3 separate regions of the Homo sapiens genome follow, and all the other regions are reported to be linked to region 1. The links are microRNA targets in miRTarBase. Many come from high-throughput screens and were not tested one by one. Region 1 holds a microRNA gene; each other region holds the end of a gene's coding sequence.

What was found. The annotated mature microRNA hsa-miR-191-5p reads CAACGGAAUCCCAAAAGCAGCUG and lies in region 1 at 1,281-1,303, shown strand. An mRNA with a match to its seed (bases 2 to 7 or 8) in the 3' UTR can be bound and repressed. Matches are read on the target gene's strand: a 7mer-m8 pairs with bases 2 to 8, a 7mer-A1 pairs with bases 2 to 7 and ends in A, and an 8mer does both.
Region 2: the mRNA of CEBPB is a reported target of hsa-miR-191-5p. Seed matches in the 3' UTR shown: 7mer-m8 at 2,294-2,300.
Region 3: the mRNA of NOTCH2 is a reported target of hsa-miR-191-5p. Seed matches in the 3' UTR shown: 7mer-m8 at 1,812-1,818.

What each region holds. Positions count from the first base shown.
Region 1 is chr3:49,018,641-49,021,974 of GRCh38, reverse strand. MIR191 (microRNA 191) reads left to right here and starts at 1,266; the gene lies at 1,266-1,357. MIR425 (microRNA 425) reads left to right here and starts at 1,741; the gene lies at 1,741-1,827. It also overlaps a transcript of DALRD3 not described here and a transcript of NDUFAF3 not described here. RefSeq lists silencers at 54-243, 280-482 and an enhancer at 1-767.
Region 2 is chr20:50,191,581-50,194,914 of GRCh38, reverse strand. It overlaps CEBPB (CCAAT enhancer binding protein beta), which reads right to left. Exons shown (of 1, transcript NM_005194.4): 1 at 2,247-3,334. The coding sequence ends at 2,844. It overlaps CEBPB-AS1 (CEBPB antisense RNA 1), which reads left to right and starts at 2,846. Exons shown (of 7, transcript NR_125739.1): 1 at 2,846-3,251. RefSeq lists an enhancer at 817-1,378 and silencers at 2,743-2,852, 3,273-3,334.
Region 3 is chr1:119,912,799-119,915,879 of GRCh38, reverse strand. It overlaps NOTCH2 (notch receptor 2), which reads left to right. Exons shown (of 34, transcript NM_024408.4): 34 at 1-3,081. The coding sequence ends at 574. Among named protein-coding and RNA genes, the nearest start is that of ADAM30, 18 kb to the right of the region's middle.

The DNA.
Region 1 (3,334 bases):
CCGACCTCCGGCGCAGCTCCAGTGTCAGCACCTGCCGCCCTCCCCGCCCCGGGCCCTTGCCCATAGTCCCGGGGGAGTGGAACACCTGGCAGCGTGGCCACCCTCAGGGCGTTGCCTGGGCCGCAGCCGCGGCCTGGCCCCCGGGCTCTCAGCTATTAAGCCGCGCTCCCGGGGCGGGGCGACCGCCCACCTGGTCGCGTCCCGAACACCTGGCCAGGCGGTGGGTGCCAGACTTCTAGCCCCTAATTCCAGCCTTTGGGGCTTCGGGCACCGTGGGCGGGGCAGCCGGCTCAAGTTTCTCCGGCTAGACGCGGAAGCACGCCCCGCCCTAACCGTCACCCGCGCGACCGTTGGCCTCTCCGCAGCGCGCGGAGAGGGGCGTGGCCGAGCGTGGATTGGCTTCTCGGGTTCTCTAGGGGGCGTGGCCAGGTGGTTTCTCCTTAAAATGGCTCCAAGTCTGCAGGCAGCCAGAGCAAGCGGAAGGGCAAGCTGTGATAGTGTTTGGGTGGCTGTTCGGCTGGCCCAGACCAGGCCGAACCGGACCAGACTTGAAGTAGAAGCGCGTGGAGCATCACCTTGTCCTCGTTCACTCTGCTCGCGTCCTGGGAGTCCCCCGTCCCCCGTCTTGATCCAAGTCAAGGGCCTACTGGCGCGAGAGTCGCTGGCCCCCGCGCGGGGTTTGGGCATCTCGGCACGCCGGCTCTGTCGTGGCCTCAGGGGAACATTGTCGCTTTCGCTACCCGCGGGGCCGGGCGAGCGGGAAGCTCGGCACAGTGGGAGCCTGGTGGTGGGTCTCCTGGGGCCGGTCGCAATGGGTTTCCGGGGGTCCCGCGGCTGCTCTGTGGACCCCTTCGGCCCCTGGTGCTCCGGGCGCTGGCAGCGTCACCGGACAAAGGCCACCGAGCGCGGGGGTGTCCCCGAGGTGGACGCGCGGGTTTACTTCCTCTCCGGCCCCACGGGCGCGCTTCCCTCCTGACGGATTCCGAAGCCCGCCCCACCACCGTCACCGCACCAGTGGCCCAGGCTTCGTGGGACCAACAGGGCTAATCCTGCCCCACGGATCTAATCCGGATCGGGACCCGGTCCCAGGGGAGGCCCCCACCTCCCCTTCTATTGTTCTGTGGCCCAGGTGAGCGTCTTGTTCCCTCTAGACTCCGTTTCACAACCTACTCCCGGGTCTTCCTCCTGGGACTGGGGATGGGCGGGTTCTGATGTGGCCCCAGGGCGAGTGACCTGGGGGCAGGAGCTCCCCCGCCCCCCGCCAACGGCTGGACAGCGGGCAACGGAATCCCAAAAGCAGCTGTTGTCTCCAGAGCATTCCAGCTGCGCTTGGATTTCGTCCCCTGCTCTCCTGCCTGAGCAGCGCCCTGGCCCAGATGGGGTGCCCCTGACCCCCAGACATACTTTACTGAGCTGCTTGGGTCTCAGTTCCTCTCAGTTGCGCCCTCAGGCTGGAGGTGATGGGTGTAGACGTGGGAGAGCCGAGGCTGGTGGCCATCTCTGGAACCCTGGGGAGGATTGGCGAGGGAGGGTGGACCCAGGACCTCTGGGTAGGGCTGCAATGGTAGTGACTCCCCCAGGGCTGCCTCAGCCCGCATCTCGCTAAAGATAGCCCTCTTACTTCCTGGGGAAAAACCACCCCAACCGTCTTCGTGGATGAGAGTATCTGAAGTCCTCAGTTTGACTGAGGGTTCCCAACCCTGCTAAGCAGTTGTCTCCAGGTCATGCACCTTCAGAATGGAAAGCGCTTTGGAATGACACGATCACTCCCGTTGAGTGGGCACCCGAGAAGCCATCGGGAATGTCGTGTCCGCCCAGTGCTCTTTCGGCGCCTCCCAGCAGGGCCTCAGCCCTGGCCCAGAAAGGGGCCTTGCCAAGCTTTTCCTGCCCCTGGGTTTCCCTGCTCTCCGGATTTCCCAACTCTCTCTACTGAGTTAGCTTCTCTATTAAAAGGAATGGGGGTGGGGTGGGGGGTGAGTAAGTTACAGTGAAATGAAGACATTTGGGAACCTTTGTGGGAGAAAGAAAAAGACCTTTCCTATTGGTAGAGGAGCAAGATACTCCAACTGAGGCCTATTTTCTATTATGGTCGCATTATTTGGTTGGCCCGTAAATGGCTGTTGCCTAAAACAGGAAGCTTTAAGGATCGTTGTTAAAGCACACCAGGTTAAAGGAGTCACATTAAAAGCTGGTCATTCTGAGCCGGGCGCGGTGGCTCACGCCTGTAATCCCAGCACTTTGGGAGGCCGAGGCAGGCGGATCACCTGAGGTCGGGAGTTCGAGGCTTGACAAACATGGAGAAACCCCGTCTCTATTAAAAATACAAAAGTAGCCGGGCGTGGTGGCGCGTGCCTGTAATCCCAGCTACTTGGGAGACTGAGGCAGGATAATCACTTGAACCCGGGAGGGGGAGGTTGCGGTGAGCCAAGATCACACCACTGTACTCCAGCCTGGGCAACAGGAGCGAAACTCCGTCTCAAAAAAAAAAAAAAAAAGTCTGGTAATTCTGGAAGCCATCATGATGGTTGTGATTTCTCAGGTATCAAGAGAAGAAAACCGCCAACTGTATCAGAGTGCTTATTTATTGGGCATAAAGACCACCCGGGCTGGGTGCAGTGGCTGATGCCTGTAATCCCAGCACTTTCGGAGGCCGAGGCGGGCAGGTCACGAGGTCAGGAGTTCGAGACCAGCCTGGCCAACATGGCGAAACCCCGTCTCTACTAAAAATACAAAAATTAGCCGGGCGTGGTGGCGGGCGCCCGTAATCCCAGCTACTCGGGAGGCTGAGGAGGAGAATCCTGTGAATCCGGGAGGTGGAGGCTGCAGTGAGCCGAGATCGTGCCACTGCACTCCAGCCTGGGAGACAAGAGCAAGACTCCGTCTCAAACAAACAAAAAAACACCCATATCTCAAACGAGAAAATGCTTGCAAATAACCTGAAACCGCGGAACACTATTCTTTTTAAAACGAGATATTTTAAGTAGGTCGTGAAAGTGGCCTTAATGTTATACTGCCTTATTCCAGTGACGAATATTCATCATGTGTAAAATGGGAGAAATGAAATGTTATTAAAACAAACATGTGAGACTTCGATGAGAAGAGACGGTACCCGGTCTAAGCGCCCACCGGGTCGCGAGGATCCTTTTCCTGGTTAAGGCCTGGGTCACAGCGAAAGAACCCTAGGCCCAGGGAGGGCCCCGAGATTTCAGATCCGGGGCCCGGCTGTGCAGGTGGACCACGCGGAAGGGGCGCTGGGGGCGGTAGGTCGAAAGCAGCCGACAGGGCTACCACTGGCGCACCTGTCCACTTACGGGGACCACCGCCGCATCCCCGC
Region 2 (3,334 bases), not on the chromosome of region 1:
GAAACTGATGTTTGCAGTTCTGGGGCTTGGAGTGCCTGAACTTGAGGTCAGGCAAGGAGCCCTCCAAGAAGAGCCTGGGATTTTAAACAGGAACTGGGATTACAAACCAGGCTCCCAGCCCCAAACTTTCCCCATAGACTTGGGAGTCGGATGGTTTTGTAACCTGCTCCACCTAGCCCACCTTGAGCACAAACCTCACTTCTGTGGACCTCAATGTGTGCTTTTAGAAATGGGTCTAGCACCTTCTGTGGGGTACTGTGGATGAGAGCAAGATGTGAGTGTGTGAAGAACTGACTCAACGCTGGTTCCAGGACAGCACTGGGGAAACAGAAGCGAAGCTGTGGGGCAGACGGGGGCGGAAGAGGGGCACCGTCTGGCCAGGCTGCTTCCCTCTCACCTCATTTGGGTGAGCAGTGGCCACCAGCCAACTCTTGGTGACAAAGGAGGGAGCAGGGATTTGAGATTTGTTCCTCAATTTCGACCCTCTCCACCTCCCTCCTTCCCTAGGTCCAGCCCCTCAGCCTCTGCCTTCAGCAAGTAAATCCTTGAGGTCAAGCCCACATTGCTGTCGCTGCTACTGACAGAAACCATCGAGACCAGTGGGGCTTGGGACTGAACTGACTTCGAGGCTTTGAAGGCATGCCCGGCCAGTTGTCCAGTTGCCCAGGGCTGGGAGGGGACGTGGTCAGGGCCACGCTGCAGGTCCCAGGTTGAAGTGAGGTTATCTGTGTCCAGCAATCTGCATAGCCCTCGAGCCACCATCAGGAGACACTGGCATTAGGGAGGTGGAGCTTATAGGAATCCTCCGCTTTGTGGCGGTGGGGGATGAGTGTCGCTGTCTGTTCCCCACATCCCAGGCTCCCACAGGGAAAGCACAACCAGGCCCCCAAAAGGAAAAGGAGGGGCAAAGCATTTCCCATTCGCGAACCACGGTATCAGCAACTGCTCCTGAGATCCCAGACCGCCCCAGGTCCTTGGCAAACCAGGCTACGATGCCTGCTGCCCCTGAATTCCTCAGGGCAGGGCAACCCCCAACCAGTGTCTTGCCCATAGGGATCGGACAGCCCAAAGCTGCTCCCCACCTCTAAAAACAGGCGTCATAACAATCCCCACCTTCCCAAAGGTTATTGTGAGGTCTAAATGGGATGGGGCAGGTCCAGTGTTTACCAGATGCCGGCCCCTGGCAAGTACTGGCCACACTGGCGCTGCACTGGAGACTGGGGTGCCAAATGCCAGCAGCTTCCCAGCAAAAAATAATAACAAGAGCAAGCGCTTATATAACACTTCTTGCGTGCCAGGCACTGTGGGACGCTGTACATGTATCCACTCACATCCATCTACATCCTCAACTCTCAGGAATGCCATCCAGGGCTGGATGGGAGTAGGGGGTGCGGTGAGAAGCCGGAAGGGGCAAAGGGATCAGTGGGCAGGGAAGAGGAGCCTGTCCCAGGGAATCAGGGCTAGCAGCCCCACGTTTGTGCCTGGGCTCAGCCACCTTGAGCAGGCAGGTGAGGTGGGCTCAGTGTCCAAGTCTGGGCAAAGAGAGCAAGTGATGAGCCTCCCATCCTCAGGAAAGGTAATCAAAGTGTGGGAACCCCTCCCCCACCTCTCTCCACCTGGCCTGGCCTCTCCCCTCCTGCTGGCCAGGGACACACAAACACAGACTCGCCCACACACCCAGGCTCCCCTCTTTAAAATACACATGTATACACAAACTGTGTTTTAAACAACCCACCCCACTACACTGACCAAAAGCATCTGCCCTGACTCGGGCTCAGCAGGACCAAGACCTGAACCCCCTCCTCCTACAGTCACAGGCCTGCCTACCTAGTCCCCAAACACAGGGCAGGGGTCACAGACCTCCCAGCCCTTCCAAACCCAAGCCTGACACTCGGGACCAGCCAGAGGCTCCGGAATCTCTTCTCAAGCAGGGTTCCCAGCCACCCGTCCCGGCGCCTAGGGGCTCTGAGTCAGCCTGAATGCCTGACCCATTACTCTTCTCCCCTTTCCCCCGGGGCTGGAACCCCATCTCAAGCAGACCCTGTGTGTGTGGGAGGGGGAGTAGCAGAGGAGGCAGAAAAACCAGCTGCAACACCCCCACCCAACCACCAAAACCTCCAAAAATAACAGCAGCCCCCCACACACAACCCCCTACACACCAGAAACGCAAAAACAAAATCCTACAAATCCAAAATAAAGTAAAAAAATAAAAAACAAAAGCCAATTACTGCCCCCAAAAGGCTTTGTAACCATTCTCAAAAAAAAGTTTATTAAAAGTGTTCTTAATGCTTGAAACGGAAAAGATTCCCAAAATATACAGACGCCTCTTTTCTCATAGAAATAGATTATTTTTTATAATACAAAAAAAGACCAAAAAACAAAACAAAACAAAACATCAACAGCAACAAGCCCGTAGGAACATCTTTAAGCGATTACTCAGGGCCCGGCTGACAGTTACACGTGGGTTGCGTCAGTCCCGTGTACACACGCGTTCAGCCATGTTTAAACCGATTGCATCAACTTCGAAACCGGCCCGCCCGCCGGCGCCTGGAGAGGGGCAGAGGGAGAAGCAGAGAGTTTATCATTCATCTGTACACATAGACGTTTCTTCTTTAAATAACACCACGGGCGGGAGCCCCATCTGCATGTGCGGTTGGTTTGGACAAAAATATAGATATATATATATAATAAAATATTAAAATTACCGACGGGCTCCCCGCGCTGCCAAGTGCCCCAGTGCCAAAGTTTTGCCGGCGCCGCCGGGGGCGGGGGCGAGGGCGCGGGCGCGGGCGCTCCCCGGAGTCTCAGCCCCGGCCGGCAGGGGGACGCGCGCGGGGGCCGCGCTAGCAGTGGCCGGAGGAGGCGAGCAGGGGCTCGGGCAGCTGCTTGAACAAGTTCCGCAGGGTGCTGAGCTCGCGCGACAGCTGCTCCACCTTCTTCTGCAGCCGCTCGTTCTCGGCCGTGAGCTCCAGGACCTTGTGCTGCGTCTCCAGGTTGCGCATCTTGGCCTTGTCGCGGCTCTTGCGCACGGCGATGTTGTTGCGCTCGCGCCGGATCTTGTACTCGTCGCTGTGCTTGTCCACGGTCTTCTTGGCCTTGCTCTTGACCTGCGAGGGCGCCGGCGCGGCCCCCGCGTAGCAGGCGGTCGGGGGCGCCTTGGCGTCAGCGGGGCTCGGCGTGCCGGGCGGGCTGGACGAGGAGGACGTGGAGAGGCTCCCGCTGCTGCCGCTCGGCACCGCCTGGTAGCCGAGGTAAGCGCGCAGCGCGTACGGGAAGCCCGCCGCCATGCCTGCGCCGCCGCCCGGCGCCCCGGCCTCCTCCTTCCGCTTGCAGT
Region 3 (3,081 bases), not on the chromosome of region 1:
CATAGCTCCCCAGAGCAGGCCACCTGAAGGGAAGCACATAACCACCCCTCGGGAGCCCTTGCCCCCCATTGTGACTTTCCAGCTCATCCCTAAAGGCAGTATTGCCCAACCAGCGGGGGCTCCCCAGCCTCAGTCCACCTGCCCTCCAGCTGTTGCGGGCCCCCTGCCCACCATGTACCAGATTCCAGAAATGGCCCGTTTGCCCAGTGTGGCTTTCCCCACTGCCATGATGCCCCAGCAGGACGGGCAGGTAGCTCAGACCATTCTCCCAGCCTATCATCCTTTCCCAGCCTCTGTGGGCAAGTACCCCACACCCCCTTCACAGCACAGTTATGCTTCCTCAAATGCTGCTGAGCGAACACCCAGTCACAGTGGTCACCTCCAGGGTGAGCATCCCTACCTGACACCATCCCCAGAGTCTCCTGACCAGTGGTCAAGTTCATCACCCCACTCTGCTTCTGACTGGTCAGATGTGACCACCAGCCCTACCCCTGGGGGTGCTGGAGGAGGTCAGCGGGGACCTGGGACACACATGTCTGAGCCACCACACAACAACATGCAGGTTTATGCGTGAGAGAGTCCACCTCCAGTGTAGAGACATAACTGACTTTTGTAAATGCTGCTGAGGAACAAATGAAGGTCATCCGGGAGAGAAATGAAGAAATCTCTGGAGCCAGCTTCTAGAGGTAGGAAAGAGAAGATGTTCTTATTCAGATAATGCAAGAGAAGCAATTCGTCAGTTTCACTGGGTATCTGCAAGGCTTATTGATTATTCTAATCTAATAAGACAAGTTTGTGGAAATGCAAGATGAATACAAGCCTTGGGTCCATGTTTACTCTCTTCTATTTGGAGAATAAGATGGATGCTTATTGAAGCCCAGACATTCTTGCAGCTTGGACTGCATTTTAAGCCCTGCAGGCTTCTGCCATATCCATGAGAAGATTCTACACTAGCGTCCTGTTGGGAATTATGCCCTGGAATTCTGCCTGAATTGACCTACGCATCTCCTCCTCCTTGGACATTCTTTTGTCTTCATTTGGTGCTTTTGGTTTTGCACCTCTCCGTGATTGTAGCCCTACCAGCATGTTATAGGGCAAGACCTTTGTGCTTTTGATCATTCTGGCCCATGAAAGCAACTTTGGTCTCCTTTCCCCTCCTGTCTTCCCGGTATCCCTTGGAGTCTCACAAGGTTTACTTTGGTATGGTTCTCAGCACAAACCTTTCAAGTATGTTGTTTCTTTGGAAAATGGACATACTGTATTGTGTTCTCCTGCATATATCATTCCTGGAGAGAGAAGGGGAGAAGAATACTTTTCTTCAACAAATTTTGGGGGCAGGAGATCCCTTCAAGAGGCTGCACCTTAATTTTTCTTGTCTGTGTGCAGGTCTTCATATAAACTTTACCAGGAAGAAGGGTGTGAGTTTGTTGTTTTTCTGTGTATGGGCCTGGTCAGTGTAAAGTTTTATCCTTGATAGTCTAGTTACTATGACCCTCCCCACTTTTTTAAAACCAGAAAAAGGTTTGGAATGTTGGAATGACCAAGAGACAAGTTAACTCGTGCAAGAGCCAGTTACCCACCCACAGGTCCCCCTACTTCCTGCCAAGCATTCCATTGACTGCCTGTATGGAACACATTTGTCCCAGATCTGAGCATTCTAGGCCTGTTTCACTCACTCACCCAGCATATGAAACTAGTCTTAACTGTTGAGCCTTTCCTTTCATATCCACAGAAGACACTGTCTCAAATGTTGTACCCTTGCCATTTAGGACTGAACTTTCCTTAGCCCAAGGGACCCAGTGACAGTTGTCTTCCGTTTGTCAGATGATCAGTCTCTACTGATTATCTTGCTGCTTAAAGGCCTGCTCACCAATCTTTCTTTCACACCGTGTGGTCCGTGTTACTGGTATACCCAGTATGTTCTCACTGAAGACATGGACTTTATATGTTCAAGTGCAGGAATTGGAAAGTTGGACTTGTTTTCTATGATCCAAAACAGCCCTATAAGAAGGTTGGAAAAGGAGGAACTATATAGCAGCCTTTGCTATTTTCTGCTACCATTTCTTTTCCTCTGAAGCGGCCATGACATTCCCTTTGGCAACTAACGTAGAAACTCAACAGAACATTTTCCTTTCCTAGAGTCACCTTTTAGATGATAATGGACAACTATAGACTTGCTCATTGTTCAGACTGATTGCCCCTCACCTGAATCCACTCTCTGTATTCATGCTCTTGGCAATTTCTTTGACTTTCTTTTAAGGGCAGAAGCATTTTAGTTAATTGTAGATAAAGAATAGTTTTCTTCCTCTTCTCCTTGGGCCAGTTAATAATTGGTCCATGGCTACACTGCAACTTCCGTCCAGTGCTGTGATGCCCATGACACCTGCAAAATAAGTTCTGCCTGGGCATTTTGTAGATATTAACAGGTGAATTCCCGACTCTTTTGGTTTGAATGACAGTTCTCATTCCTTCTATGGCTGCAAGTATGCATCAGTGCTTCCCACTTACCTGATTTGTCTGTCGGTGGCCCCATATGGAAACCCTGCGTGTCTGTTGGCATAATAGTTTACAAATGGTTTTTTCAGTCCTATCCAAATTTATTGAACCAACAAAAATAATTACTTCTGCCCTGAGATAAGCAGATTAAGTTTGTTCATTCTCTGCTTTATTCTCTCCATGTGGCAACATTCTGTCAGCCTCTTTCATAGTGTGCAAACATTTTATCATTCTAAATGGTGACTCTCTGCCCTTGGACCCATTTATTATTCACAGATGGGGAGAACCTATCTGCATGGACCTCTGTGGACCACAGCGTACCTGCCCCTTTCTGCCCTCCTGCTCCAGCCCCACTTCTGAAAGTATCAGCTACTGATCCAGCCACTGGATATTTTATATCCTCCCTTTTCCTTAAGCACAATGTCAGACCAAATTGCTTGTTTCTTTTTCTTGGACTACTTTAATTTGGATCCTTTGGGTTTGGAGAAAGGGAATGTGAAAGCTGTCATTACAGACAACAGGTTTCAGTGATGAGGAGGACAACACTGCCTTTCAAACTTTTTACTGATCTCTTAGATTTTAAGA